Linked DNA regions of Homo sapiens: region 2 is linked to region 1. The links come from fine-mapping of genetic effects on gene expression. Tissue or cell type: whole blood. Region 1 holds a variant in brackets; the other region holds the start of a gene. All regions are shown on one strand. Distances are between the middles of the regions.

Region 1 (11,148 bases):
CTTATCTCCTTTAGCCACAGGGCTGAGATTCCTGAAAATCAAATGCAGAATCTCATCCTGTGACCCAGTTTTACAGTTATCTTATCTCATCCGGTGACCCACTTTTATACTCTGTTAAAGTGAAGGCGTTGACTGGGAAAGAATGGGTTTCTTGCTGGGTGCGGTGGCTCATGCCTGTAATCCTAGCACTTTGGGAGGCCAAAGCAGGCAGATCACTTGAGGTCAGGAGTTTAAGACCAGCCCCGGCCGACATGGTGAAACCCCGTCTCTACTAAAAATACAAAAATTAACTGGGCATTGTGGTAGGCACTTATAAAACCAGCTACTCCAGAGGCTGAGGCAAGAGAATTGCTTGAACCTGGGAAGTGGGGTTTTCTGTGAGCTGATATCACACCACTGCACTCCAGCCTGGGTGACAGAACGAGACCCCACTCAAAAAAAAAAAAAAAAGGGGAAAAAAGAAAACCAGAATGGGTTTCTATAAGTTGGAATGGGGACTTGTGGGAAGACCTTGATGAAACTGAGGACATTGAGCCTCTAACTTCTGGTGAGTCTTCTTTGCTAGTGGAAGAGGCAATCCTACTGCTAGTGGAAGTGGCCTCCGCACTCCCAGTGCTAGTGGCTTCTCCACCTCAGAAGGTGGTTAATGCTACACTGCATGAGGAAATTGTAATGGCCTCCACTGAGGCAGTTGCCAAGCAAGACAATATTGATTTTTCTTAGAACTCACCCCTACCACCCCTCTTTGCTTCTAGTCTCATAATTAGACTCAAGTCCCAGCAGGCCTTTGAAGGTGTGGGACAAAATGTGACCCATGAGAAAGTGCACTACACTCCAAAAAAAACTACTTGAGTTTTCTAACTTATACAGACTGAAATCTGAAAAATATGTGGAAATGGATAATGAGGGTATGGGATAATGGTAGAAAGAAGATAAAGTTGGAAGACGCTGAGTTTATTCACATGAGTTCTCTAAATAGAGATTCTGCATTTATATTTTGGCACAAGGAGTTAGAAAGGGCTCTAAAGCTTGTATTAGTCTGTTCTCATGCTGCTAATAAAGACATACCCAAGACTGGGTGGGTAATTTATAAAGGAAAGAAGTTTAATGGACTCACAGTTACACATGGCTGGGGAGGCCTCACAATCATGGTTGCAAATGAAAGAATAGCAAAGGGACATCTTACATGGTGGCAGGCAAGAGAGCTTGTGCAGAGGAACTTCCATTTATAAAACTTCACAGCAAAAGAAATGCCTCAATGGGTCCATGCTCCTGGAATTCACTGGTTTTTACAGTGAACACAGTTACACTGTAGTTTTTACCACTACTCTGAAGTAGCTGGTTTGACAGAATGGTGAAGTGGCCTTTGGAAGACTCAATTCCAGTGCCAACGATGGGAGAGTACCTTGCAAGGCTGGGGCAAAGTTCTCTAGGAATCTGTATATACTCTGAATCACAGTCCAATATATGATACTCTTCCTTCCATAGTCAAGATTCTTGGGTCCAGGAATCAAGGGTTGGAAATGGGAGTGGCACACTCACTATTACCCCTAGTAACCTACTAGCAAAAATTTTGCTTTCTGTTTCCATAAGCTTATGCTGCTAACCTAGAGGTTTTGGTTCAAAAAGGAGGAATGTTTACACCAGGACGCACAATGATAGTTCTATCGAACTAAAAGTTAAGACTGCCACCCAACCACTATGAACTCCTCATGCCCCTGAATCAACAAGCGAAGAAGGGAATTACTGTGTTGGGTGGAGTAATTGACCCTAACTATCAAGGAGAAGTGGGACTGCTACTCCACAGTGGAGGAAAAAGAAGAGTGTATCTATATGTGCCCGGGATCCAGTGTTTGAATGCTGGGCTGTAACCCAGCATTGACCTCGTGATCTGCCCCCCTCAGCCTCACAGAGTGCTGGGATTACAGACCCATTTGGACCTGTATAGTCAAAATAATATTTTGGCTTTTAATGGAATTTGGGAAACATAGTTGCTATAGACTGAATGTTTATGTCCCGCAAAACTCAGACGTTGAACCTAATCCCCAATATGATGGTATTTGCAGGTGACGTCTTTGGAAATGATTAAGCCATGAGGGCAAAGCCCTCATGAATGGGATTAGTGCCCTTATAAAAGGGATCCCAGATTCTCCTTGGTCCTACTGCCATGTGTGGACACAGTGAAATGACTGTGTATAAACCAGGAAGTGGGCTCTCACCAGACACTGAATCTGCTGGAGACTTTATCTTAGGCCTCCAGCCACTAGCACTGTGAGAAATAAAATCCTCTTGTTTATAAGTTACTCAGTCTATAGTACTCAGTTTTAGCAGCTCAAATGGACTAAGACAATAGGAGAATGCTCTTTAGGATACTATCTTCTAGAGAAAGTATGTCTTCTTTGAGAACAAGTCTGTGGGATGAGAGACTGGCCTGTGTGCAATGTCAGAAAAAGAGGTGGGTAAGGGGGGGAAAGGTGTGCAGGCAATGGGAGATGGGTACATACAGGGGAATAGATCAAATAAGTAAAAATTTTAGGAAATTCGGAGCCAGATTTCTTGGACTAGAAAGTATTTACCAGTATAAAAAGGAAGAACATTAAAATGGACCCTTTTAAACAAGTCATTTGTTCTTTCTCTGTATGCTCAGAAAATTGATTCTATATTTCTACTACTTTTCTGTGCTGCCACTTTTCTTTTCTAGTTGCTTTTACCTCTCTGAACATAGGACTAATTACAATAGTTCCTCTGTCTTCAAAAATATCCTACAAGTACAGTAGGTACAAAACTACAAGTACAGCTTTCAGGCCACCTGATCCAACATAATACCTTTCCAAGGCTTGTTGGCCATTTCAACAACTCATTTAATTGCTGGCATTTTTCTTGCCCTCCCAGTACATACAGGCAAAAAGTGAAGTCTTTACTTTCTTTATCATGTTCTTTGACACACAAGGTTTTCATTTTGATGAACTCTTATTTATTTTTTCCTTTGTTTCTCATGCTTTTGGTGTCATATTCTTTGTTAAACGCAGGGTCATGAAGATTTATTTATCCCTATTTTTTTGATAAGAGTTTATGGTTTTAGCTCTTTTTTTTTTTGAGATGGAGTCTCGCTCTGTCGCCCAGGCTGGAGTGCAGTGGCACGATCTCAGCTCACTGCAAGCTCTGGCTCCCAGGTTCACACCATTCTCCTGACTCAGCCTCCTGAGTAGCTGGGACTGCAGGTGCCCACCACCACACCCGGCTAATTCTTTGTATTTTTAGTAGACCTGGGGTTTCACCATGTTAGCCAAGATGGTCTCAATCTCCTGACCTCGTGATTCGCCTGCCTCAGCCTCGCAAAGTGCTGGGATTACAGGCGTAAGCCACCGCACCCGGCTGGTTTTAGCTCTTATATTTAGGTCATTTATCTCATTTTGACTTCATTTTGCTATATGGTGTAAGGTAGAGGGTCCAAACTCATTCTTTTACATTTGGATACCCAGTTGTCCCAGTCCCATTTATTTAAAAGACTTTTTTCCCCCCATTGAATGTTTTGCCACACTTGTTGAAAATCACTTGGCCATGATGTATGGATTTATTTCTGGTCTCTCAGCTCTATTCCATTGGTCTATATGTCTATCCTGTACCTTGATATTTTGATTACTATATCTTTGTAGTAAGTTTTCAAATCAGGAAATGTGAGTCCTCCAACTTTGTTCTTTTTCAAAATTGTTTTGGCTACTTGTGACTCCTTGCACTTACTGCAAATTTGAGGGTCAGATTTTTCATTTTTGCAAAAAAAGCCTTTGAAATTTTTATAGGGATTACATTGAATCTATAGATCACTTTAGATAGTATTGACATCTTAGTATTTTTATTGTTTGTAGGGTCTGTTCTTTGGATATTTGATAGAATGGTCTTATAAAACTCTTGGCCCATGTTTGTTTGGTGTTTATTCAGAGGCAGATTTTAAATTCTGATTCAATTTCTGTTATCATTGTTATGTCTTCCAATCCATGAACATGGGATGTCTTTCCATTTGTTTAGGCCTTTTTACATTTTTTTACAGCAATGTTTTGTAATTTTCAGTATGCTAGTCTTTCACCTTTTTAGTTAAATTAGTTAAATTTATTCCTAAGTATTTTTATTAAAAAGTGAGATTATTCAATAAAATATTTCAGGCATGCAAAGAAATTTAATGAGCAACTGTACACTCACCACCCAGTTTAAGAAATAAAACATAACATACAATTAAAGCCTCCATGACTGCATTCTCTTTTCTCCCTCAGAGGTATTTGCTGTCTTAAATTTAGTGTTTATTATTCCCTCATATAGTATGGTAGGTAGAACATTACCCCACCCCCTACAAAGATGTCCATATCCCAGTCCTCAGAACCTGTGAGTATGTTACCTTACGTGACAAAAGAGTCTTCTCAGATTTGATTAAATCAAGAATTTTGAAATGGGGAGATTATCCTGGATTATCTGGGTGGATCTAATAAAATCACAAAGGTATTTATAAGTAAAAGAGAGAGGCAAGACTTCTTAGAATGCATCTCTCCAAGGGCCAGGTAAGCCCTAGCATCTCCAGCTTTTATGACCTAGACATGTCTCCAAGGTCCTGGGACCCATTTCTTCTTGAAATGTAAATTAGGGATCTTCCTGACACCTTGGAATCTTGACTAATCCAGGCTGTGACCATTTGACTTTCTTGGGGAGGTAAGAGAAGTTTTATTATTCTTTTGGATCAGAGCAATTAACTGTTTGTCAGACAAATAACTATTTGTCTACGAATAACTACAGATCTAATTTCAATAGTAGGTGGAAAGTAAAATGTTTGTAAAGTAAGTGAAGGGTAAAATTACCTATCTTTATATCATGTAGATTTCCATGCCTCTGGAGGCTAGTGCTTTTTACAGGAGCACTGAGAAATCGAAGACTTATTTCCTTGCATTGATCTATCAAGTATTGAGATCGTTTTGATATTATCTTTCATTATGATTGTGGATTTGTCAGATTCTCCTTGTCACTTTGTGGCTTTGTTATTAGATGCTTGCATAGTTAGGATTGCTATAATCTCTAGTGAATTGCTACCTTTAATTATTATGTAGTCACCCTCTTTGTGAGATAAACTTTAAAAATCCAACTAAAATACAATACAAAACTGAAGGATTCTTGTATCAGTTCAAACCCCGAGAGTGTGCCAACAGACAACACGAGGCAGTGTGGAGCAACACGCTGTTTTAATGAGTACCTGGGTGCAGGCAGGCTGAGGCCTAAAATGGCGTCAGCACCAAATGAGTAGGGGGCAGGGGTTTTATAGTCTCCTGTAAACAGGAAATGTCCCAGTCTGATGTAACTGCTATGTGGTA[C/T]CTGGATGGCCTCTTTCTCAATCTTCAGGGGTACGTGTCTCCCAGTCAGAGTAGGTGTCTTCTGGCCGGCTCTCTTCCTGCTTCTGCTATCTTGCTGACTCACACTGCTGGCACAAGTGGCCTTGCGCCTTGGGACTGGGCCTGAGAAGGGAGGAGTTATTCATTCCTTCAAGCTTTCAGGCCCTGGGGAGAATCCTTCATTCCTTTCTATTTGGTTATAGAAAAAAGGGAAAAAGGGTGACTTTCTCAATAACTACTTTAGGCATGACATAGGGGGTGGCGTGGGCACCTTGGAAAAAGAAAACCTTAATTTTTTTGGTATTCTTGAGAGACAGGTTAGTATCCATCTTGTCATTGTAGCAGGAGCATTGTCTGGATTGTCTGGCAGTTAATTGTAGTTTCTTTTTCTTTTATTATTATACTTTAAGTTTTAGGGTACATGTGCACAACGTGCAGGTTAGTTACATATGTATACATGTGCCACATGTGCCATGTTGGTGTGCCGCACCCATTAATTCGTCATTTAACATTAGGTATATCTCCTAATGCTATCCGTCCCCTCTCCCCCCACCCCACAACAGGCCCCGGTGTGTGATGTTCCCCTTCCTGTGTCCATGTGTTCTCATTGTTCAATTCCCACCTATGAGTGAGAATATGCAGTGTTTGGTTTTTGTCCTTGCGATAGTTTGCTGAGAATGATGGTTTCCAGCTTCATCCATGTCCCTACAAAGGACATGAACTCATCATTTTTTATGGCTGCATAGTATTCCATGGTGCATATGTGCCACATTTTCTTAATCCAGTCTATCATTGTTGGACATTTGGGTTGGTTCCAAGTCTTTGCTATTGTGAATAGTGCCACAATAAACATAGTTAACTGTAGCTTCAACAAGAGTTTTAATGGCTTTTATTATCAGTGGGATAACACGGGAGAAAAAGGAGGAGCCCAATGATGAAGATTACTGTCCTTATCAGCATTTTAAATCCTTCTAAATTAGAGAAACATCCTCCTAGAAGGTTTGCCAGGTCCCATCCTTTCCAGGTTTGGACTGGTACATGGGCTACTTTTCTGATGTTTGAAGCGATTTCTAGAACTGCTTTTCCATTATTGTCTATGTTAAGACAACAATTGGAGACATTAAAGTTACCACAGACTCCACCCTCTTCTGCTAATAAGTAGTCTAGTGCTAGCCTGTTTTGATAAATTGCCACGCACATTTGTTTTTGTCGTTGTGCGAGCATTTCCAGGACGGAGGCGGTTTGGTTAGTGATTATCTCTAGAACAGCCTGTAGCCTTAATTATTCTATTTAGCATATATATGGGAGTGCGATAACCCCATGAACCATCCTCCGCCCAAGTGGCAGGACCATAATATTCGATGATCCATTGCAGGGGCCACTCGTCCTCTTGCCGTCTTTGGCTTCCTCCTACCTTTAAGGATCGTTTTTCTCTGTTTAAGTGATCATACACAGGGACTCCATGGGTGTTGGGGTTTTCCCATGTAAAGGCAAAGAGGTTTTGGGAATCAGGGTGTAATGGAATTGTGAAAAAAGCATCCTTTAGGTCTAGAACAGAAAAATGGGTGGTATTGGAGGGAACTGCAGAAAGTAAAGTATATGGGTTAGGAGCTACTGGACATACTGGGAGTACAGCTTGGTTAATAAGCCTGAGGTCCTGGACTAAGCGATAAGTTCCATCTGGTTTTTTAACAGGTAGAATTGGTGTGTTAAAAGGGGAGTATGTTGGGCGGAGTAGGTGACTGGCGAGGAGGTGAGAAATGATAGGCGTTAGGCCTGTGAGAGCTGCTTGGGGGATGGGATACTGCTTCTGTGATAGGAACTGGGTGGGCTCTTTAAGGGTAATGTGGACGGACGGGAGTGTGGTGTTTTGCGACTGAGGGTGTGGAATTACCCCAAACAGGGGGGCTAACTACAGATGGGGGATAAGGAAAGGTTGCATGTTTTAAGGTGGGAGGTTGGAATAGAAGAAAGAAGCCCCAGAGGGGTTTGGGTTGATGCGTTGGGTATTATGGGGAACGTGGAAGTGGAGAGCAGTGTGGAGTTTTGAAAGGATGCCTTGGAGCGGAGTTGGGCATGAGGGCAGGACTAAGAAAGAGTGAGTGAAGGAAAAGGTGTGCAGGGAGCAGAAAAGTGGAGCGGGGGGCTCAGGGTTTGGAGGCTTGTTCATCAATTTCCACAATAGAGACTTGGGAGGACTGGGTGGGTCCTGAAAAATTAGGGAAAGCAGAATAGGTTGCCCTGGTATTAATTTTAAAAACATACTGGCCTACCTGCCACCATCAGGGTTACCCTTGGCTCAGATGAAGCGATGGTAGTTGCTGGGGTGTCTGTTCCAAGGCACTATCAGTCTTCAGCGGCAAGGCTGACGAGATCCGAGTAGGAGGGTTTGATTGGCTCAGGAAGGGATGGGGGTGGTCCTTGCAGGGGCCGCTCACAGTCCAACTTCCAGTGGGGTCCTCCGCAGAGGGGGCATGGCCTCGTGGGTTTACCTGGGTTTGGGCATTGTGTGGGCCAGTGGCCTTCATTGCCGCACTTGAAGCAGGCACCAGGTGGAGGTGGATTGCTAGGAGGCTTCTGTGTGGAGCTGTGGCCCCATGGCCTGCAGGGCCCCTGATGGAGGAGGCAAGCATTTGAAACCCTGCCTGTTTTTGCCTTTTACTTTCCTCATCACGATTGTTAAAGACTTTGAAGGCTAAATTAAGAAAGTCTCGTTGTGGGGTTTGAGGGCTGTTGTCAAGTTTTTGAAGCTGGCGCTGAATATTGGGGGTGGATTGGGAGATGAACTGAAGGTTTAAAATATCGGTTCCTTCTGGACTGGCTAGGTCTAGGTTGGTATATTTTCTCATGGCTTCAGTTAAACGAGAGATAAAAAGGGCTGGGTTTTCGTTAGGACCTTGGGTGATTTCTGAAAGTTTTTCATAGTTTACCACTTTATGGGCAGCCTTTTTGAGTCCTGCAAGGAGGCACACAATCATGTGGTCTCGACAGCAGCGTCCAGAGGCCCCATCTTGATAATCCCAGTGGGGGTCCTGGTTGGGGACTGCCTTTGCACCAGTAGGCTGAGCAGGAGCTTGGTGATGAATTGTATCAGCATGTACCTGAGTTAGGGTCCAGATACAGCCCCAGTCTTCTGGGGTGAGGGTGGAAGAGAGGATAATGTAGAGGTCATGCCAAGTTAGTTCATAAGACTGGGTGAGGTACTGAAACTCTCTAATGTAAGAGGTAGGGTCTTCTGGAAATGAACTGAGTCTTTTGTTAATTTGAGAGAGATCACTGAGGGAGAGGGGAACATAAACTTTAACAATGCCTCCAGTTCCTGCTACTTTCTGAAGGGGGCTCTCTAGCACAGGGGCTGAACTAAGGGTGGGGCATGGGCCAAAGATGGTGCCTGAGCGAGTATGGGTGGGAGAGAAGGAAGAACCTGAAAGTGGTTCCTGCTGAGGGTTTGAAGGGGGAAGGAGGGTTAAGTTGATAGGCAGTGGAGGATAGATAGGGGCGTAAGGTGGTGGGATGGGTTTACAGGCTTCAGGAGAGGGCAGTGAGGAAGGAGAATGAGTAATGAGTACAGACAATGCTAGAATTGTCCTGAGGAGAGGACAGTGTAGGAAAAGAAGTGGATACTGCTGCTTGGGAAGATGGGGGCTGGGAAGATGGCGACTGGGAAGATGAAGGCTGAGAAGATCGCAGCTGAGAAGATAAAGAGGAGGCTTAGGGGGTTAAAGAAGACGGCTGAGAGGGAGAGGCAGGGGCTGAGAGGAATGGACAGCAGTCTGCTGGATCTAACGAGGAAAATATGTCGAGTTGGGAGGAGAAAGGTGATCTGGGTGGCGAGAATAGAGGAGGATTTGAACAGGTGAGCAAGAATTACAGAGGTCGGGTTGTGATCTGAGTGCAAACAGGGCTGGACATAAGGAGTTTTTCCCCATTTCTCCAGTCGTCAGCAATAATTGCTTAAATCAGTTAAAATTGTAAAGTCGAATGTTCTATTTGCGGGCCATTAGGACCCATTATTCAATTCGTATTGTGGCCAGTCTGAATTGCAAAAAAAGACAAGGAGGATGGATATCTTGCCTGAGGCCTAAGGTTTGCAGGTTTTTGTTTGTTTGTTTGTTTTACGGACTCTCACTCTGTCGCCCAGGCTGGAGTGCAGTGGTGTGATCTTGGCTCACTGCAAGCTCTGCCTCCCGGGTTCACACCATTCTCCTGCTTCAGCCTCCTGAGTAGCTGGGACTACAGGTGCCTGCCACCATGCCCGGCTAATTTTTTGTATTTTTAGTAGAGCCAGGGTTTCACCGTGTTAGCCAGGATAGTCTTGACCTCCTGACCTGGTGATCCGCCCACCTCACCCTCGCAAAGTGCTAGGATTACAGGCATGAGCCACCGCACCTGGCCAGGTTTACAGGTTTTTTATGAGGCAGCCTAGAGGGCTGTTTTTTGGAATTGAGGATGGGGAGTTTCCCATAACTGAGGGTAGGCTCGGGAAAACAGGGAAAAAGGAGACCATCCTGGATGGTGGAGGGAGACGATGAAAGGAGCGATCGTCACCGCTGCCTTTTTCGTTCCCGGAACGGGATCAAATGGCTTAGAGGCGTCCCCCTAAGACCAGATGATCAGCAAGTACCTGGCACACGTCGGAGCCTTCTTGGACCAATGTTGGATTTTCAGACTGGAGAAACCAAGAGAGGCTGTATGGATTTTTCCTTGTTAACCGGGCTCCCGGGAAACTTACCAGTAGGTGAGATCAGTGACTGATGTGCATGCACAGAGAAGCAACTGGAGGCTGAGGAGCTTCCTTTGTCCGGCTGCTGTGGCCTGCTTTCTGGGGCGGAGGGGTAGGTCCACGGGGGACGAAGACCGGAGCCCCTCCCGGGTTTCGGCACCAGATGAAAGATTCTTGTATCCGTTCAAACTCTTGAGAGTGTGCCAACAGACAACACGAGGCAGTGTGGAGCAACCTGCTGTTTTAATGAGCGCCTGGGTGCAGGCAGGCTAAGGCCTAAAATGGCGTCAGCACCAAATGAGTAGGGGGCAGGGTTTTATAGTCTTCCGTAAACAGGAATTGTCCCAGTCTGATGTAACTGCTATGTGGTACCCAGATGGCCTGTTTCTCGATCTTCAGGGGTACGTGTCTTCCGGCCAGGGTAGGTGTCTTCTGGCCGGCTCTCTTCCTGCTTCTGCTATCTTGCTGACTCACGCTGCTGGTACAAGTGGCCTTGTGCCTTGGGACTGGGCCTGAGAAGAGAGGAGTTACTCATTCCTTCAAGCTTTCGGGCGTTGGGGAGAATCTTTCAAAAACAAAATGAACACAAATGAAAGGAAGGCTGATAACCATCATTTTACTCGTTACTTCCGTAAGTCCAACATTTTAAAATTTCACATAGAAGTGAAATCATGGAGAATTTGTCTTTCCGTGCCTGAAAGTGTAGATTTTAAATGTTTTCTTCACACACAAAAATGATAATTATGTGAGGTGGTGATTTCTTAATTATTAACCTGATTTAATCATTCCACATTATAAACATAAATCAAAACATCACATTTTAACCATAAATGCATTTTAATTATTATTTGTCAATTAAAAATAAAACTAAGAAAAGAAAATAGATAGCTACATTAATATTGGGGGAAAAACATTAAAGCAAAAAGCATTTTTAGGAATAAAAAATTTTTGTCTTCTAACCAATACATTTTGTTAAATTTATTATGATTATTGATATACTTGGGTTCATTTTTCTAATTTCATTTTATACTATTTATTATCTTTTTATTTATTATT
Region 2 (10,594 bases), 97 kb before region 1:
CTTGGCCAAGATGCTGAAACCCTGTCTCTACTAAAAATACAAAAATTAGCCAGGCATGGTGGCACATGCCTGTAATCTCAGCTACTCCGGAGGCTGAGGTAGAAGAATTGCTTGAACCTGGGCGGCAGAGGTTGCAGTGAGCCGAGATCCCACCACTGCACTCCAGCCTGGGCAACAGAGCAAGACTCCATCTCAAAAAATAAATGAATAAATAAAAAATAAAATAATGAGCCTATACTTTAATTCTATATATTCTCTTTGAATTTCTAATAAAAACCATTTATCGGCCCAGCACGGTGGCTCACACCTGTAATCCCACCACTTTGGGAGGCCAAGGCAGGCAGATAAGCTGAGGTCAGGAGTTCGAGACCAGCCTGGCCAAGATGGTGAAACCCCGTCTCTACTAAAAGTACAAAAATTAGCCAGCAGTGGTGGCACATGCCTGTAGTCCCAGCTACTCGGGTGGCCGAGGTAGAAGCATCACTTGAACCTGGGAGGCAGAGGTTGCAGTGAGCTGAGATCGCACCACAGCACTCCAGCCTGGGCGACAGAGCAACACTCCATCTCAAAACAACAAAACAAAACAAAAACCATGTATAACTTTTTAGTAAAGAAATGTAAAACTTAAAACTCTAAAAATTTTACAGGAGGGCGATCATCAAATACTCAGCTCTTCCACTGGTGAGTTTTTGGACTGCTATTACACAGGTGAGGAGTCAAACATGTGTTCTACTTTCCATCTAGCTCTGTGCCAACAAGACTGTGAAAGAATCTTAGGCTCGGTGGTTTGTGGTCTCCTCCAGTAAATCAAGGAGAAATTAGAATTCTCAAAGGGAATGAAAAGTGACTACCACATTATAACGTAGCAAGACAAATTTCAAGATAACTGTCATGGTTCAGAATCTTTCCAACTGGGAACACAATATGCCTGTTTATGTAGTCTTAGGCCCTTCAGTAAAATTATCTTCTCACTACAGGAACTCCTAGTTTTTAAAGTGAATTCCTAATTTTTAAAGTTTTTATAGCTATCATGAATGATATATATTTTTTGAAACAGGGTCTCATTCTGTCAAATAAAATATTTTCAATTAAAATTTTGAATTGTTACTGCATGTATACAAGAAGTTATTGATTTGGGTATATTTACTTGTACTCAAGATATTTTATTAAACTCATTGCTTCTAGTAGTTAGTTAATTCTCTTGGATTTTTCCAAGTAAATCATTATGCCACCTACGATTATAATTCTGCCTCCAATATTTATGCATGTTGTTTTCTTATCAAGCTATGACTCCAGAAGAACGTTGAATAGTAGCTGTGATAGCAGACACCCTTCTCTTGTTCTTGAGTTTGATAAGGATGCTACTAACTAGTGTGTCTATTAAATACGATATTTGCTTTTGGGTTTTGATGGATGTACTTGATCAACTTAAGAACATTTCCTTCTATTTATTCCTTACTTGCTGCAAGTTTTTATCAGAAATGATAAAATTTTTTTTCTTTTTTTTTCCCCGAGCTTCAGCTATGGAAAGAAATATTTTAATGCCTTTTTATTATGAGGTCATCATGTGGCTTTTCCTTTTTCTAGTATGACTCCTCCTTCCATGTCCATTTGGCCTTGGTATATTATTACTTTAATCCCCTGATAGATTTGACTTGCTAATATTTTAAGATTTTTATATCTTTATTCATAGTTGAGACAGATTTATAGTTTTTCTTACCATCCTTGTCAGGTTATGACGTTAGATTGTTGGATGAATTGGGACTGTTTCCGTCTTTTTCAATGCTCTCAAACCACGTTAGTACAAAAATTATTTTATTTTTTATTTTTTAAGACAGAGTCTTGCTCTTTTGTCCAGGCTGGAGAGCAGCGGCACAATCACAGCTTACTGCAGCCTTGACCTCCTGGGCTCAAGGGTTTCTCCCAAAACAGCCTCCTGAGTAGCTGGGACTACAAGTGCACACTACCATGCCTGGCTAATTTTTCTATTTTTTGTAGAGATGGGGTTTCACTATGTTGCCCAGCCTGGTTTTGAACTCTGGGCTCAAGCGATTCTTCCACCTCAGCCTCCCAAAGGGATTAGAGGTGTGAGTTTAAAACAAAGAAAAGATCGCCACTGCACTCCAGCCTGGGCAACAGAGCAAGACTCCGTCTCAAAAAAAAACAAAAACAAAACAAACAAAAAACAAAAGATCATCTTCTGAAATCTAAGCGTGATGATGACTTTATTAGTCCATTCTCATGCTGCTATGAAGAACTGCCCGAGACTGGGTAATTTATAAAGGAAAGAGGTTTAATTGATTCACAGTTCCACATGGCTGGGGAGGCCTCAGGAAACTTACAATCATGGTGGAAGGGGAAGCAAACACTTCCTTCTTCATAGGCAGCAGGAAAGAGAAGGAGTGCAGAGCAAAGGGGGAAGCCCCTAATAAAACCATCAGATCTCCTGAGAACTATCACGAGAAGAGCATGGAGGGGAGGGGAACTGCCCCCGTGATTCAATTACCTTCCACCGGGTCCCTCCCACGATGTAGGGATTATGGGATTACAATTCAAGATAACATTTGGGCCGGGCACAGTGGCTGATGCCTGTAATTCCAGCACTTTGGGAGGCTAAGGCAGGCACATCACCTGGCCAACATGGTGAAACCCTGTCTCTACTAAAAATACAAAAAAAATTCGCCAGGCACATGGTGTGTACCTGTCATCTCAGCTACTCCGGAGGCCGAGGCAAGAGAATCGCTTGAACCCATGAGGTGGCGGTTGCAGTGAGCTGAGATCATGCCACTGCACTCCAGCCTGGGAGACAGAGTGCGACTCCGTCTCAAAAAAAAAGAAAAAGATGAGATTTGGGTGGGGACACAAAGCCAAACCATATTGATGATGAAATGAGCATTTCTCAAGTCTTCTTCAATGATAAAGGAGTAGCTTCAGGAAGAAGGGACTGTGAGCAAATTATTTTTTAAGCTGCCTTACCTAAGATAATGATGATTATGGGAACTGTTAAGTTTAAAAGACTGTCCACATTCATCAGATTGAGTCAGTATAACTGAGAAGATATCTGAGTCCAGGACACCTTCCCAATGTACTTATACAAAAATATCTCTGACATGGGCAAAGACAACAAATTAGGCTTTGTAAATGCTATGATTTGAATGTCTCCTGCGAAACTCATGTCGAAACTTAATTCCCAATGTGGCAGTATTGAGAGGTAAGGCCTTTAAGAGGTGACTGGATCATGAGGGGTCTGTCCTCATGAATGAATTAATCCATTCATGGATTAATGAGCAGGACTGGTGGCTTTATAAGAACAAGAGACCTGAGTCAGCATGTTAACACACTTGCCCCTCTGGCCTTGGGATGCCCTATGCCACAACAAGAAAGCCCTTACCAGCTACGGCCCCTCAATCTTGGACTTCTCAGCTTCCATAACTCTAAGAAATAAATTTCTTTCCTAATAAATTACCCAGTTTCAGATATTCTATTATAAGCAACAGAAAATGGACTAATACAGTAAGGGTACATACAAATCTTTAAAAAAAAAAAGCTGAATTATACCTAGTGGCAAAAGTGAGAGAGACCTTCCCCTTCCACTCCCTTTTTCTTAAAGCATTCCCTCGTGCAAACTTGTAATTAAAAATCCTTTATTGGCCAGGTGAGGAGGCTCAATCCTGTAATTCCAGCACTTCGGGATGCTGAGGCAGGAGCACTGCTTAAGCCAAGTTCAAATCAGCCTGGGCAACATGGTGAAAACTCATCTCCTAAAAAATTGGAAAAATTAGCCAGGTGTCGGTGTGCACCTGTAGTCCTAGTTACTTAGTGGGGTGAGGTGGGAGGAGCCCAGGGAAGTGGAGGCTGCAGCTGTGATTGCGCCGCTGCAGCTGTGATTGCGCCACTGCACCGAGCCTGGGTGACAGAGGGAGTCCCTGTCTGAAAACAAAACAAAACTCCTTTTTCTGCTTCTTTGATACAAATGTAAATCTTTTTGTTTGTTTTTTGTTTTTTGAGACAGAATCTTGCTCTGTCGCACAAGCTGGAGTGCAATGGTGCAATCTTGGCACACTGCAACCTCTGCCTCCTGGGTTCAAGTGATTCTCCTGCCTCAGCCTCCTGAGTAGCTGGGATTACAGGCACCCACCGCCAAGCCCGGCTAATTTTTGTATTTTTAGTAGAGATGGGGCTTCCCCATGTTGGTCAAGCTGGTCTTGAACTCCTGACCACATGATCCGCCTGCCTTGGCCTCCCAGAGTGCTGGGATTACAGGTGTGAGCCACCACACCCAGCCTGTAAATCTTTTTAAAAGTGAAATAAGCATTTGGCCAGTTTTACAGCCCAAGAAAGACTTTCTTAAAAGCTTTGGAGCCTACTGTTCGAAAGCGTACTCTTTGAAACCTACTCTTCCAGGAAGATAGATCCCCAATCTCCCCAACTCTGTGAGTTTTTAGCCTGGGCACCTGGTTCCACATCATAAAGATATTTTTATTTTTCCTCTGGATAAAGGCAATTAGATAACAACCACCCCAATTACCAGTAAATTCAGGATAAACTACATGTAGCAAATGGTACTGTCAAGTCCTCTTACCTAAGGACAAATTATTTTTTATCTTGAGAACACGTATGTAATATGAAATCGGTTCTATCTGTCCAGCTACATTTAAAGGAATTAGAATTCTTCCTGCTATCCCATTAGCAAATTGCCCGTGATGTGTGAGGCAATTTAGTTTGTGCTTATTCAACAATGAAGCTGTTTAGCTCTCTTCTACAATTGTGGACAGGAGTTTCTTGGATGGCAGATATGATATTTTAAATTATTTCCCTAACAGCTTCCATGATGTGAAACATGCCTTTGGAGGGTTTTAATGTACCGATCAACTTTTGGACAGAAACCGAATCATGCATTTGTCCGCTGGGAGGGTGTGTCTCGCGCAGACAACTGTTCCCATTTCCAAAACACACACCAGGCTGCGAGGTCTTGGACCACTGTGACTCCCAGGTACCTCCCGTCTGAGGCCGGGCCGAGCGCCCGCACAACTGACCCTCTGACGTCCCTTCTTCCAGGGCACCTGCAAGCAGAGATTGACCTATGGCTCTGGGCCCCTCAACAGCCCTTCCACAATCGGGAGAATCCCTTTAGTTACACAAAGGCCCGGAGCAAGCTTTAAAATGAGAGGCCATCAACAGGTTTTTAAGAAATCTAATCCTCCGCTGTGACGCGGAGCTCAGGCAGGAAAGCCAGGGCAAGTTTTCATACCAGTATAGTCAGCAAAGGGGCGGCGGGGGCGGCGCAGCACCCTGCACTCACACAAGTACTGCCTCTCCCTCTAGCTCGGCTCCTCATTTTACCCCGAGCACACGCAAGCCACCACCCCGGCCTGGGGAGCCCCCCTGCCCAGTCCCCGCCCACCTGCCGGAAACCCCGGGGTCCCACCTGCGGACTTCGAAGAGCGTATCCCGAGCTCGCGGTCGCCCCGCCGCCGACCCCGGGTCAGCCTGTAAATGCAGTAGCAGGCGCCCGCGCCGAGCAGCAGGCCCGCCGCCACCCAGCCCGCGCCCCGGGGGCCACCCATGCTGCCGCCGCGGCAGAGCCGCAGCGCCGGGCCAGGGCAGGAGGCTCGCGGGGGCCAGCGCGGAGGTCTCCAGCGCACGCGGGCCTAGCCGCCACAGCAAACGCCACCTGACCTGGATGTGGAGAAAGGAAATGGGGTCTGAGCTCCGCCTCCCGGAAACGGCCTAGCTCAAAGCCTATAACCGCCCACTCCAGCCCGGCGCGTCCCGGCGGCTTCTCCCAGGCGAGGCGGGGCGGTGCGGGGCGCTGCACACCGGGAGGGGGGGGTCGGACGGTGCGCCCCACGCGGAGACGCCGGGGCCCGCAACCCAGAGCCGAGCTTCCCGTCTCTTCCCCCGGGGCGTGAAGCAACCATTCCTCCCTCCCGCCCCTGGCAGCGGAGCGCGGGGCGGTGCCACGCCCAGCCCCGCCCCCTGGTTGCCGGGACAACGCCCGCACGCGCCCGGCCCCTAGTCCCAGCGCGGGGAGGGTACTATCGCAGCTTCTCCGTCAGGCCTTGGGCCATGGCCTCGCTACGCAATGCCAACCCGAGGCTGAAGAACTACTTCAAGGAGAACTACATTCCTCAGGTCTGCGAGGTACTGGACACGCGTGGCAGCGGACACAGACCGTCGGTGGGGAGTTAGAAGGGGGAGGAGTCAGGAAAGACTTCCCGGAGGAGGGACTAGGTTTCGGGATTGGGGAGGAGTGGAGGGAAGGCGGGGCAGAATGCGAGAAAGTGAAGTCAAATTCGGACTTGTAGGCGATCAGGGCTGAAGACGCTGATTAGAGAGAAAACAGAGGGTGATGGTGGCTGCACGTGGGGAATGGGTGACATCTCCCAGGGGGAATGAGCACAAGGCCCAGATCGGAAACCCCAAACTCAGATTTTAAGGTTTGGACAAGAAGTACCTGAGGAGTGGAGGAGTGAGAAAGAAGTGCCAGAGAGCCTGAGGAGGAAAATCAGCAGACTGGCATTATGAAGAATGTTGTCAGAAGTAGGGAGTAGGCACTAGTCACCTAAGATAAGGAGCTGGATTCTGCCCAAGGTGAGCCTGAGGTTTCCATGGAGCCGTGAGGGCAGAAAATAGATGGAGGTTAGCGGAGGGAAGAGTGGAAGCTGAGACCTTTGGTCAGTGTAGTCAGCCCTTTGTGAAGGTAAGGACCCTCTCAACCAGGATTGCCTTTAGACAACAGGAAGGACTGCCCTCCTACTGCCGTTATAAGAGTAGGGAAGGAAGACAGGAAGGGGATAGACATTAGGTTTTGTAGGTTTGGGGGTAGGAAGCTGAGAACATTTGCCTTTGTTGACCTCTTTTTTTCTCTACAAATAGTTGGTGAGATATTTACCAAGAATGTGCGTGTTTGAGTGGGGATGGGGATGTTGGTGCAGTAGGAGGTTCGAGCAAAGATACGTTATGTGGAGAATGAGGGAGAGAGATGTCTAGGGAAAGAAAGAGGAGGTCCTACCTGAGGGTAGTAACGCTCCTAGGCGGTTGGGAGGGCAATTTGGTAGAGACCCCCCACCCGTCTCTTTTTTGGATGGTAATTGAGAAATATTTATTAAGATGTTAAATACATGTACCCTTTAACCAAGCATTTCTACTTCTAGGGATCTACTTTAGAGAAATACTTGCACATGTGTTCAGGAGGATGTACAAGGATATTCATTATAACTTTGTTTCATAGTAAAAATAGTAAATGACCTAGAGTGACTAAGCGAATGAGGCATTATGTAGAATAAAGTATATCTGTACCTACTAAGAAGAAATGTCCTCCAAGACATATTATTATTATCATCATTATTATTGAGACACGGGGTGTTGGTCTGCCACCCAGGCTAGGGTGTAGTGGCTCCATCCTAGCTCACTGCAGCCTCAAACTCCTGGGCTCAATTGATCCTCCCACCTCATCCTCCCAAGTAGCTAGGACTACAGGCATACACCACATGGCTGGCTCCCAACACATATTATTAAGTAAAAAAGAAAAAGTGCAAGTTGCTTAGCAACTGTCCATTCTGCTCTAGCTGTCCATTTGATTTCATATATGTTGTATATGTGTTTATGTACATATATGTGTATATATCTAGCTTTAAGACAATAGTGCATGCATAGAACCTATGCCAAACTGTTAATAACAGATGTCTTGTGGAATGGTTTTGGGGGAAAAGATGGAGAATTCTAACTTTTTACTCTGTCCATAGCTGTATTGTTTTAATTTATTACAGTGAGTTTTGTGTTGTACCTCTATACAATTGTGCTTGAAAATATGTAGGGAGAATGGTACCCATCTTCCCGGTTGTGTGATTTTCTCAAGTAGCAGTCAGTAAATCAGATGTAGGTACAGAGATAACCAAGTTGACTTCGTCTGGGATAGGAATTTGCCAGGCATATATTAATAGAATGGAAAGGCAGTAGGTTAGGGAGCTAAGCTCCTGAGTATCTGAAGTGATGGGCCAAGGACTCTAAGGACTCAGTGGGAAATGAGAAAAGGATATCATACTGATACATGGACAGAAAGTGAAGACTCCTCTAAGAGGTGAGTGAAGAGAAGTAGAGGGAGTAATTAAGTGAGGGAGCTGGAAACACAGGAGGTGGGGGTCAGAAAGTGGAACGTTTATATTTACAATTCAGGGTGCAGCCATTCTGAGTGATGGCTCAGTCTGTGATATGGCGGTGGAGCAGGTGGCAGAAATGGACTTGAGTTGAGAGTCAGGGTACATCAAGGAAGGGATGGCCTCTTCTCATCTAGGCCGCCAGTTACTATAACATCACAAAGCTGCAATGAGGCAGTCCCCAGTTCCCCCTCTGGGTGAAAGCATTCCTTCCTTACCAGCTTACTGCATTGTTCTGCACCCATAGAGGAGGCCCTTATATGCATTCTCCATTGTCTAAGATCATGTTCTCCTGAGGAGTCCTTCACTCACCTCTGCTAGCACACTAGCAGGAAGTGCAAAGGAGCAATCCTCTGGGCCCCACACACCCACCTTAAACTCATTACCCATTTCTTCTAAGAGAATATCAAGATGAATTCCATTCTGCCTCATATCCTGTCTGTACATTTATTTATCTGACTCAATTTCCCAGATGGGTTTTATACTTTTTTTTTTTTTGAGACAGAGTCTAGCTCTGTCGCCCAGTCTAGAGTGCAGTGGTGCCATCTCAGCTCACTGCAACATCCGCCTCCTGGGTTCAAGCGATTCTCCTGCCTCAGCCTCCCAAATAGCTGGGACTACAGGCACCTGCCACCATGCTCAGCTAATTTTTGTATTTTTAGTCGAGACAGGGTTTCACCATGTTGGTCAGGCCGGTCTCGAACTCCTAACCTCAGGTGATCCACCCGCCTCAGCCTCCCAAAGTGCTGAGATTACAGGCATGACCCACCACAGCATGACCCACCATGTCTGGCAGGTTTTATACTTTTCTAAAACCCATCTTCTGCAAGCCTTGGAATACATAAATAACCTTTCATTAAAGTTTTCCCTGTATATTTAACCTCTTCTGAATTTCATCTACCTGTCCTAAATAAAACCTGATTTTCTACCTACAATATCATTTTCCTGCAAATCTCTTGAATAGAGACTGATTTTTTTAAAAATCAGGCCTGGCTTGGTGGTTCATGCCTGTAATCCCAGCACTGTGAGAGCCCAAGGCAGGTGGATTGCTTGCCAGGAGTTCAAGACCAGCCTCGGTAACATAGTGAGACCCTGTGTGTACAAAAATTAAAAAAAAAAAAAAAAAAAAGCTAACTTGTCTTAGTGGCTCACACCTGTAGTCCCTGCTACTCATGAGGCTGAGAGGAGAGGATCACTTGAGCCCAGGAATTTGAGGCTGCAGTGAACTATGATTGCACCACTGAACTCCAGCCTGGGTGATGGAGCAAGACCCTATCTCTAAAAAAATAAAAAATTAAAAAACATTTTAAACAATCCTGCTTGGTCCCCTGGGCTTACTGAATCTGTTGATAGATATTTTTCATCCGTTTTAGAAAATTCTTGGTTCTTTTCAAATAGTACTTCTATTCAGTTCTCTCTTTTCCTTTTGGAACTCCAATCGTACATATGTTAGCTTTTTTTTTCTTTTTCTTTACCTTGTTCTACATGCCTCTTTTGATCTCTTCTGCTTTTTCCCCATTTTCTTCTTTTTGAGCTCAAGTTTGGATCTTTTTCATTGATGGTTTTCAAGTTTACTAATTTTGTTTTATGCTGTGTCCAGTCTACTCTTAAATACATCAAATGAAATCTTAATTTTAGACATGTTTTTCAGTTCTAGAATGACAATTTGATGTTTAAATAAATTCTGATTATTAGAATTATGCATCTTTTCATTCAGTTTGCCTTTTTCTGTTTTCTTTATTTGTTCTCTCCAAATCTGTTAAAATTTGATCCCCAGTGTTGGAGGTGGGGCCCAGTGGGAGGTATTTGAGTCATGTGGGCAGATCCCTCAAGAATGGCTTTGTGCCCTCCCCTGTGATAATTAGTGAGTTCTCCCTCTATTAGTTCACCCAAGAGCTGGTTGTTTAGAAGAGCCTCCCTCTAGCTGTTTCTCTTACTCCTTCTCTTCCCATGTTACATGCTGGCTCCCTTTGCCTTCTGCAGTGAGTAAAAGCTTCCTGAGGCCTTCGCCAGAAGCCGAGCAGATGCTGGCACCATGCTTCTTGTACACCCTGCAGAACCCTGAGCCGCATACAACTCTTTTCTTTATAAATTACCTGGCCTCAGGTATTTCTTTATAGCCGTGCAAAATGGATCAACACACATGTTGATGGTTGTTATTTTAAAATTATTGTTTGTTGCTTATGCCTGTAATTCTAGCACTTTGGGAGGCCGAGGTGGGTGGATCACTTGAGGCCAGGAGTTCGAGACCAGCTGAAACCCTGTCTCTACTAAAAATACAAAAATTTGCCAGGTGTGGTGCACGCCTGTAATTCCAGCTATTTGGGAGGCTGAGGCATGAGAATCGCTTGAACCCAGGAGGCAGAGGTTGCAGTGAGCTGAGATCACACCATTACACTCCAGCCTGGGTGATGGAGTGAGACTGTGTCTCTAAA

Evidence for each region. PIP is the estimated chance that this variant, and not a neighbour inherited with it, causes the effect.
Region 2: FBXL13 starts here. The variant in region 1 is fine-mapped to the expression of FBXL13 in whole blood (TOPMed, PIP above 0.99).

The regions. Positions count from the first base shown.
Region 1 is chr7:102,972,725-102,983,872 of GRCh38, reverse strand. All of the region lies in intron 7 of FBXL13 (F-box and leucine rich repeat protein 13), which reads left to right. NFE4 (nuclear factor, erythroid 4) reads right to left here and starts at 10,443. Exons shown (of 3, transcript NR_166512.1): 1 at 10,102-10,443. RefSeq lists silencers at 7,170-7,331, 9,902-10,072 and enhancers at 9,752-10,265, 9,723-10,922. The variant C/T (reference allele first, on the strand shown) is at 5,352.
Region 2 is chr7:103,070,246-103,080,839 of GRCh38, reverse strand. It overlaps FBXL13 (F-box and leucine rich repeat protein 13), which reads left to right and starts at 6,044. Exons shown (of 21, transcript NM_001394494.2): 1 at 6,044-6,144. The coding sequence starts at 6,070. It overlaps ARMC10 (armadillo repeat containing 10), which reads right to left and starts at 5,700. Exons shown (of 7, transcript NM_031905.5): 1 at 5,429-5,700; 2 at 4,959-5,063. The coding sequence starts at 5,567. RefSeq lists an enhancer at 4,954-5,003 and a silencer at 5,274-6,113.